Regions from separate parts of the Homo sapiens genome. Here region 1 is linked to region 2. The links come from fine-mapping of genetic effects on gene expression. A gene starts in region 2. The other region holds a variant in brackets. All regions are shown on one strand. Distances are from middle to middle.

What was found. PIP is the estimated chance that this variant, and not a neighbour inherited with it, causes the effect. A credible set is the group of variants that fine-mapping cannot tell apart.
Region 1: its variant is the best candidate, but not a certain one, in a credible set for the expression of PRDM16 in hypothalamus (GTEx, PIP 0.89).

Annotation. Positions count from the first base shown.
Region 1 is chr1:3,430,804-3,435,170 of GRCh38, forward strand. PRDM16 (PR/SET domain 16) reads left to right here. Exons shown (of 17, transcript NM_022114.4): 15 at 69-305; 16 at 1,163-1,337; 17 at 2,874-4,367. The coding sequence ends at 3,008. Among named protein-coding and RNA genes, the nearest start is that of ARHGEF16, 22 kb to the right of the region's middle. RefSeq lists an enhancer at 2,648-3,157. The variant A/G (reference allele first, on the strand shown) is at 2,269.
Region 2 is chr1:3,067,183-3,071,551 of GRCh38, forward strand. It overlaps PRDM16 (PR/SET domain 16), which reads left to right and starts at 2,021. Exons shown (of 17, transcript NM_022114.4): 1 at 2,021-2,114. The coding sequence starts at 2,078. LOC124903827 (translation initiation factor IF-2) reads right to left here. Exons shown (of 5, transcript XM_047436614.1): 1 at 3,032-4,369; 2 at 1,040-1,789; 3 at 155-866. The coding sequence ends at 1,766. It overlaps PRDM16-DT (PRDM16 divergent transcript), which reads right to left and starts at 543. Exons shown (of 6, transcript NR_015440.1): 1 at 155-543. It also overlaps the pseudogene LOC100420339. RefSeq lists an enhancer at 340-914.

The DNA.
Region 1 (4,367 bases), 360 kb after region 2:
GCCTTTGGGGGTCCATGGGAAGGACAGAGACACCCAAACTCAGTCAATCTCCTCCTGCATCATTTCAGGGCGGACATGCAGATCGTGGACGGCAGTGCCCAGTGTCCAGGCCTAGCCAGTGAGAAGCAGGAGGACGTGGAGGAGGAGGACGACGATGACCTGGAGGAGGACGATGAGGACAGCCTGGCCGGGAAGTCGCAGGATGACACCGTGTCCCCCGCACCCGAGCCCCAGGCCGCCTACGAGGATGAGGAGGATGAGGAGCCAGCCGCCTCCCTGGCCGTGGGCTTTGACCACACCCGAAGGTGGGGGCAGCCGTGTGCTCCAGGATGGGGCAGGGAGGGAACGTGGGCGTCCATCACGAGGGGGACCTCCCTCTTCAGCCACTCGTGAGCCCATCCCTGGCTCAGCCCCTACTCCAGCACAGCCACCTCAGGGCCTCCACACACAGGCCAGGGCAAGGCTGGGCCAGGGGCAACGGGGTCAGGGGCCCTTAACCCCCCCACCCACCCCCAGGGGCCCTGGAGGCTGGAAGCAGAGTGTGGAGGGGAAGGCATTTCCCTGCACTGAGCAGACATGGAGGCCCCCGGCCCTGCAGCAGAGCTGCCTGTCAGCCTGGGACAGCGCGTGCAGCCACTAGAGGGCCGTGGGCACACGGGGGCCAAGCACCCACCATTCTGTGCCGGCCAGGGCCACTTCCCCATGTCCTCAGTGTTCGCCACCAATATCGGGCCTGGGCGACACTGCCAGCATTCCCAGATGCCCTTGGGGAGGCCCTTCGGAGGTGGCACTTCCTCTCCAGCCTGGATGCTGCCCCTGAGTCCTGGGAGAGGGAGCCCCGGGCCTCTCTGAGCTGCCTGGGGTCTTAGAGAATTGAAGCCTTCTTCTCCACCCTCCACTGGCAAGACCTGAGCCCCCTGCCTGCTGCCTGATGCGTGTGCACGCACTCACCCCCTCCCTGACCTCTGTCCGTCACTCTCCTGCATCCGTGTGCCTTCCCGTCCAGGCGTCTGTGTGTCCGTGTGTCTGTCTCCCTGTGCATGTGGCTGGCAGAGATGCAGCGGCGTGCATGCAGGCCCGGAGCTGGGCTTGCAGCATCAGAGAGGCGGCCAAGGCCAGGCTGCTGACAGCAGGCCTTCCCTCTCCCCGGTCATTGGTGCAGGTGTGCTGAGGACCACGAAGGCGGTCTGTTAGCTTTGGAGCCGATGCCGACTTTTGGGAAGGGGCTGGACCTCCGCAGAGCAGCTGAGGAAGCATTTGAAGTTAAAGATGTGCTTAATTCCACCTTAGATTCTGAGGCTTTAAAACATACACTGTGCAGGCAGGCTAAGAACCAGGTAGGTACCCGCCAGAGCCCCTCCCCCACCCCACCTGGCCTCCTCAGCCAGAGGACAGCCAGCACTCCTCTCCCGCCGTGGCCCTCCTAGGCCTGAGGAAGCTCTGGTCACGCAAACGCCCCCACGCTGCATCCTCCAGAGAGGCCCCAGCGACCACCGCCCTCCCGCAAGCTGGGGCGCAGCAGGGAGGGGCTGAGAGCCGATGACCCTGGCAGGACCCTCACGAGGGAGCTCACTCATGGACACGGGCAGCTCACCTTCCTGTGGTCCTCAGTGGGAAAGGTCTGTGAGCAGGTTTCTGGCCCGCCCAGCCGCCTTCGTCTCCCTCCCTCTCTGATCTGGGCCCCAGTGGCCTGCAGCCCGGGCTTTTCCCGGGGGAAGAGCTGTCCAGCCGGGCAGTCTCTGCTTCCCAGCTGGAGCAATGAGGTCAGCGAGGGTGCCAGGGTTTTGGCCCCAGGCGCTTCTCGGCTTCTCTCCTCAGGGTAGGTGGCCCCAGGGCCCTGCTCCCGCATTTCTCTCCAGTCTGTAGGGACTCAGGGTCTCATTCAGCACTCTACAGCCCTCCCAGAGGGAACAGGCCCGCCCCAGGTCTCAGCAAAAGCCGTCTGCGTGTCTGTCTTTGTCTTTTTACTAATTCTGTCTGGAGTGTTAACTCGGGTAGGACAGTGCTGGGCTTCCCCACCTTCCCTGCCCTTAACCCACACACGATGCTCCCCAGGTCCCATCCCCACCTGCCCTGTGCTGGGGGCAGAAGGATGTCCCATGAACTAACGCCTGGAAACACATCTGTACTTCCTAAGAATCCCATTGGCCCAGAAACGCTGCACATCCCTGTCCCAGAGGCAGCTCTTTGGTGTCCCCACGGTCACCAAAACAGACATCCCCTGGCAGGGGTGGCTCTTGTTGACCCCCAGTTCCCAGGGCCGTCCCA[A/G]ACCAGACACGTGTCTGTAGTTTCTGCTGATCACCAGGTGGAGGAAACAGGGGGAAGGGGTGGGAAGGAGAGGAGGCTTCGAGGGGGAGCACCCCAAAGCAGCCAAGGGAGCTGGTGTGCACAGGAGGCCCTGCACCAGCACCCCAATGTCCTGGCATCACTCGGAGCAGGGGGCGGCCCTCGTCCCTCCCGCCGTCACGCCTGCTCATGTCTTCCTCTTCCAGGCTGCGGGGAGAATCCGGGTCTTAGTCCCTCTTGTTCCTTCTGCCCCCTGTGGCCCAGGGCAAGGTTGAGCCAGGCCAGGGCCACGGGAGGCTGGGAACGGACGAGGCTTGGCCCTGCTGGCCGGGGATGGCCTGTCCTGCCCACACACTCACCTGCCTGTCCAGGATGGCCTGCCCTGCCCATCTGCTGCCTGTCTGGGATGGCCCGCCCTGCCCACGCGCTCACCTGCCTGTCTGGGATGGCCCGCCCTGCCCACGCGCTCACCTGCCTGTCTGGGATGGCCCGCCCTGCCCACGCGCTCACCTGCCTGTCTGGGATGGCCCGCCCTGCCCACGCGCTCACCTGCCTGTCCTGTGTGTGTGTCATCCCCTCCCCGCCAGGCATATGCAATGATGCTGTCCCTTTCCGAAGACACTCCTCTCCACACCCCCTCCCAGGGTTCTCTGGACGCTTGGTTGAAGGTCACTGGAGCCACGTCGGAGTCTGGAGCATTTCACCCCATCAACCACCTCTGACGGGCTGGGCAGCCGGGGGCCGGTGGCCAGAGCGAGGGCACCAGCCACGAAGGACGGAGGCGGGCGGGGCCCCGGAGAACCCTGTCCCTGCGTGTGGCCACTCCTCAGCATCCTCCCCACCCACCATGGTTCATTCCGACTTTTCCAATGGAAACTCAGATCCCAAAAGTCCCTAAAGCAGTCGTAGAGTCTCACCATCTCCAAGGATTGGTCTTGAGAACACTGTTCAGTGACGGCCATGCAGGTGGCCGTCCAAAGACAGCCAACGGAGCTGCCTCGCAGAATCAGCCAGTGGGCAGGTGGACGCTCTGCTGAGACAGAAGCTGGTGGCCACTGCCGGGTGCCCGCGTGGGGTCGCGGAAGGGAATGGATAGACTGGTGTGCTCAAAAGAGAGAGATCACTCAAATGATTTTTATAATGAAATGACAAGAATAACCCTTTTGGTAACCGTATTGACTGCAGAGTCTATTTAAGCATGTGGTTTTAAAAATAGACAGTATTTTTTAAAAATCAAAAAATGACTTGCAAATTGTTTTTTAAAAGTAATTTTGCATTGCTTTGAAATTTGAGCTCATTTGCAAACCCGAGTCTGCCTGGGAACCCGCACTGTGCCTGGGTGTATTCTTTATACTGTAGATAATGGAGAAATTTTCTATCTCTGTCCCTATTTGTATAAGCCAAGGTGATGCTGGGTGCCCCGAGGCAGAACAAGAGGCGCGGGGCCACACCCGTGAACCATGCAGACGGCCGAAGAAGTCTTAGGCAGGGCGCCCTGGGCTGCAGGCCTGCCCGAGGCTGGGATGGGAAGTGTGCCTGCCCTCGTGTGACATGGAATTGGTGTCAGGACCGCCACGTGGCCTTCAGAGGAATCCACAGGTCCCCACCCAAGATCCCTCAATTATATGGGGAAGTCGAGGGCCTGTGGCTTGGATCCGCCATGCAGAGATGTGGCCGGGCACCCATCTTCCTTCCCTCCTCTGTCCCTGCCTCGGCCACCCCACGCGGGAACCCAGCGCCGTCCTCTGAAGGCAGGGCCTTGGCCACGTCCTGGGTCTCCCACCTCCCACCTGACCCCAGCGGCTCCGGTGTCCTCCACGTGGCTGCCCTGGGGAGCAATCCCAGCGGATCGCTCCGGGCCACCAAGCCGCACCTGTGCCTGAGACTCCGGATGGACGACACAGTCGTCACGTCGCTCTTCCTGCGGGTTCTTGGCGAGACACAGCTTGAGAACAGAAGGGCGTCGGGGGAACCTGCCGCAAGGAGCAGAGACAGCACAGCCCCCCGGGCCCAGCCGCCTCCCTCTCTTGGGACGCAACTTCTTCCCCACTCGGATGGGCTTTAAATTATTCCCATAGGGG
Region 2 (4,369 bases):
CGGGCCTGTAAACTGAGCTGTTCTCTGCCCCAACCCCTGTAGAAAGATGGTCAGGGTGTGGGGAGGGTGGGTAAAGGGGTCGATAGACCCTCGAAAGGACGGCAGGGAATGGGGCTGTGCCATTGCTCATGGCCCTTCTCTAGGCGACACTCACCTGGTGCCAGAAACAGCAGAGGTAGCGGCCAGTGAGCGCTTCCTCCATCCGGGGCTCGGGCGGCGAGCTGGCTGCAAGACTGGGCACCCTGGAGCCGTGGGAGCCTTGGGAGCCGAATCTGGGTTCGAATCTGAGCAGGGAAGCGGTGCCGACCGCGGAGGATCCAAGGCAGAAGGCCCAGCGCACCGCCGCCGCCAGCTCCTGCCCAACCCGGCTCCGCTGGGCTTTTCCTCTGGGGTGGCGCCGGCCCCGCGCCCCTCCCCATCCGGGGCGCCTCTGCTAGGACACCGGGGTCTCGGGGTTTCTCAGGGCTGCTGCGTTTCACCTCCTTTAACGCGGAGGCGCGGAGTTGCACGTGTGGGTCTCAGTGGAGCCGCCACAGGTCTTATTACACAACAAAGGGCAGGGAGGGCAAGGCCAGGAGCCTCGCGGGGCGGCGCAGAGACCCCGCATCGCGGGCGCGACCCCTGCCTCGGGCTCAGGCTGACTCTGCGGCAGCTCCAAGTCCCGTTGCCGGGCAGGACTTCGGTGCTCCGGAAGGGTGCGGGGCAGCAACCTGGCCAGGGCAGCGCCTCGGTTTCCTTCCAATTCATTCTCGATTCCCAGATACTCAGATGAGAAATCCGCACTCAGGCCGTCAGGCTCCTGGGCCCGGGCCACCCTGCCTGCGCTCAGCCCGGCCCCTCCGCCGCAGCGCCTCGGAGTTTGGGGGCTACAGGGGAAGAGGAAGCGTCTGGTCGGCTCCCGTCCGAGCTGCTCCACCTGCGCCGCTGGCCTTTCCGCCCGCTACGCACCTGGGCCCCGAGAGGCCAGAGGGGAGTGTCCCCAGTGGCCCGGGTCCCCGAAGGTGGCCCAGCTCGGGCGCTCGCGCAGCCGGGTACTCACCTTGGGGGCGCGGCGGCAGGAGAGCGCGGGCGGAGAGGTGCGGGCGCCCTGGGACGACCAGCCGAGGACGCCTGGTGTTTGGACGGCTGCCCCCGCGCTGTCCCCCCGTGCGAGGCGTGTTGGCCTCCGTGGCCTCGCGAGGGACCGAGGGCGGCGGGTCCGAGTGCCGCCCGCCGGCCTGGGCAGTGGCGGAGCGCGGAGCTGGCGGCGCCTCCGCTGTTGTTTTTGAGCCGCGAAGCCCGAAGCAGCAGCCGTTGGGTGGGGGCGAAGGGGAGGAGGCGGGGGCCGGGAGGCGCGAGGGGGGCGGTGGGGCCCGGAGGGGGCTTCGGAGGAGCCGGGTTCTGGCGCGCGAGCCCCGACGCCCCCTCCAGCGATCGCAGGGCGGGGACGGGGGCCGAGGGGAGAATGCAGGAGAAAAGCGGGCCGGGGCGACGGGGAACGCAAAGCTTTTAAATTAGTAATCAAACGCAGTAAAACGGAGCAAAACCAGCCCGGACTCGCGTCCGAACTATCGGCGCGTGTGCCCCGAGATCCAAGGAAGTCGTGTGGAAAACCGCAGCCGCCGCCCCATCTTCGGCCCCGGCTGGGGCGGGAGCAGCAGCGCGACGCGCCGCGACGCAGGGGCAGGGTGGGGGGATAGTCACCTCGCCTCCGGGGCCACCTGGGTCCTTTTAAAGTGTCCGGGGTGCGGGCCCCGGGCGGGAGCGCCGAACACGGAATGTTTTCTTAAAGGGCCAGTTCCGAGCTGCGCTGAAAAGGGGGGGGGGGAGAGGGGGGAGAGATAAGTGAGACGAAGACCGAGAAGGCCGAGGAGAGCCCCCCAATCCCGCGCCGAGGCGGCGGCGGCGGCGGCGGCGGCGCGACGATGAGGATGATGAATACATTGCAAAGTTTTTTTGGCCCCGGCGAGGGGTGTCAGATTGAGTGCTCTGTGCGCATGTGCGAAGGTGTCCAAACTGACAATGCTGGGGAGATGAAGATAGTGTGTGGCTGCTTCTGGACTCAAGGAGGAGGAGAGAGATTCCGCGAGCCGACACCATGCGATCCAAGGCGAGGGCGAGGAAGCTAGCCAAAAGTAAGTCTCCCGCGCTCGGCCGCGCCGCGCCGCCGGGGCCCGGGCCGCCGGGCCGGGGCGCCCGGGCCAGGGGTGCGCGTCGGGGCGCGGCCGGCGCGCCTGCGGCTCCGGGCCCCCGGCTCGGCCGCGCGGCCCGGGGGGCTGCTCCGCCTCCCGCGCTCCGGGGCGACCGGGCTCGGCGCGGAGGCTCGGGGCGCCCGGGCCGCGCGCTCCCCGAAGGCGCCGGCCCCCTCCCCGCGGAACCCCCTCCCCCCCCACCAGTGTCAGGCGCTCGGGCCCGGGAACCCGAGGCGCGCGGTGGGGGCCGGGGAGGGGGGCGGAGGGGGAGGGCCGGGGGTGGAGGGGAGCGAAAAGTGAAAGTTAGCGAAAAGTTGACGAAAGGGGAGAGCAACTTTTTCCTCCCCGCTCGCTCTCTCCCTCTCTCTCTCCGAGTGGCTCTCAGTCCTGGTCAAATCATATTCCGGGCTTTTGAAATAGTGGGCGCTAGAGCACCGCCTTTGGCGTCCGCCAGCCGGGCGCAGAGGAGGGAGACCCCGAGCCGGGGAGGGGCGGAGGAGGGGGCGCGGGCCGGCGCCCACCCGGCTCCGCGGGCGCAGGGGCAGGGGTGGCGACGGCGGGACAGCCGCAGCCACTTGGGGAGCAAAATGGAGACTTTTGCCCGGGCTGGGAACTGTGGTCGTGAAGTTTATCCCCGGCTGTGCCCCGCGTGGTGGAGGGCGCTCCTCTGGGACGCCGGCAGCCTGCGCGGGCCGCCGGGGCGACAGTGCCTCCGACAGGAGGGACCCACCCGGCCACCTCCCGACCCGCCGCTGCCGCCCTCGGGCCCGCGTGGACCCCTCTGTACCCGCTTGCCTGGCACAGCCGGGCCCGGCGGGGACAGAGCTGCCCCGGCCAGGCTGCCCGGTCCTCGGTCTTACTTTCTCTTTCGCTCCGTCTCGGCCGAGCCCCGGGCTCCGCGCGCCCCGCCTGCCGCCAGCCGGTCCTTGCCGCGGGCCGGGTGCTCCAGCCACCCGCGCCCTCGCCCGCCACAGCGCCTCCGAGCAGCCCGCGCGCACCCCGCAGCCCCGGTCGCCGGCGCCATCCGCGGTGAGGCGGGCGGGCAGGTGAGGACAGGCGGAGCCGCGGCCCGGCCAGCGCGGCTCCCGCAGCCCCGCCGAAGCCCCGGCTGCAGCGAAGCGGCCAGCGCCGCGCGGAGCGGAATCGGCGCCGCCTGCTCCCGCCGCCCCCTCCTCTGCAGGCCGCCCGCCCGCCCACCCGCAGAAGAGGCGCCCGGGCCGCTCCCCTCGAGGTCCCCGCCCGACCCACGCCGTTCCGTCCGCGCCTCCGGGGCCGGGTCCCTCCAGGCCGGCCTCGCAGCTCCCGGGGCCGAGCCCCCAAACGTGAGCCGGGTGCGCGCGGGACTCGCGGCGGTTTTCCGAAGCTCCGCTCCCTCGGCTCGGGGCCCGCCCGGCTCGTCCCAACAGCTGCCCCGCGGCCGTAGGCCCCGCGCTCTGTGCACCAGGGAAAAGCAGCTCCCGAGTTTGTGCCGGACGCTCCTGCGCCCCGCCATCGGCCGTTCCCGGCCCCTGGGTGAGGCGCCCCCTTCCCGCCGCGCTCCGCTGCCGGGTGCCCTCGGCCTCGGCCTCCCGTGACCTCTGACCCCTCTTGGTGCGAACAAGACCGGGCGTTTCGCCGCCGACGCGAAGGGGCTGTCTGTGCGCGGCGTTGCGGGCCCTCCGCGCGTGGGGTGTGCGTGTGCGTGTTCGGGTTCGGTTCTGTGTGTGCACCGCGGGCCTGCTCAGAGTCGGGACCACCGGGCTGCGTGTGGGCCGCCAGGTCAGGCCCTCGCCCAGGATGGGCCCTAAGCTGGAACGAGAAAGGGGAAACCGGCCGCGCTGACGCCGGGGCCTTCGCTGCAAGCGAGAGGCGGACTCGGCGCACCCGCGCGGCCCTGGAAACTTCCGAGAGGCCCCAGCTCTCCGCCGGCTCCACCTCTGCCAGGTGGGGAAGGTGGCCCGGGACCGGGTCCGCTCAGGACCAGAAGTGGTGCCTGGCAGCCATCTGGCCAGGAGGCCGGAGAGCCGGGCCCAGCGGGAGCGCCGAGCGCTGGCTTCCTTTTCCCGAGAGTCTTTAGTGAGGAAAAACCCCATGAGAGGTGACTGCCAGGCCTCGGCCCTCTGTCCACACTTGGCCGAGCGCTGGGAACCCCTCCTTCCAGGCTCCACAGCTGGGACCGCTTGTCCCAGGCCCCCCAAGGTGGCTGAGGCAGGTTCAGG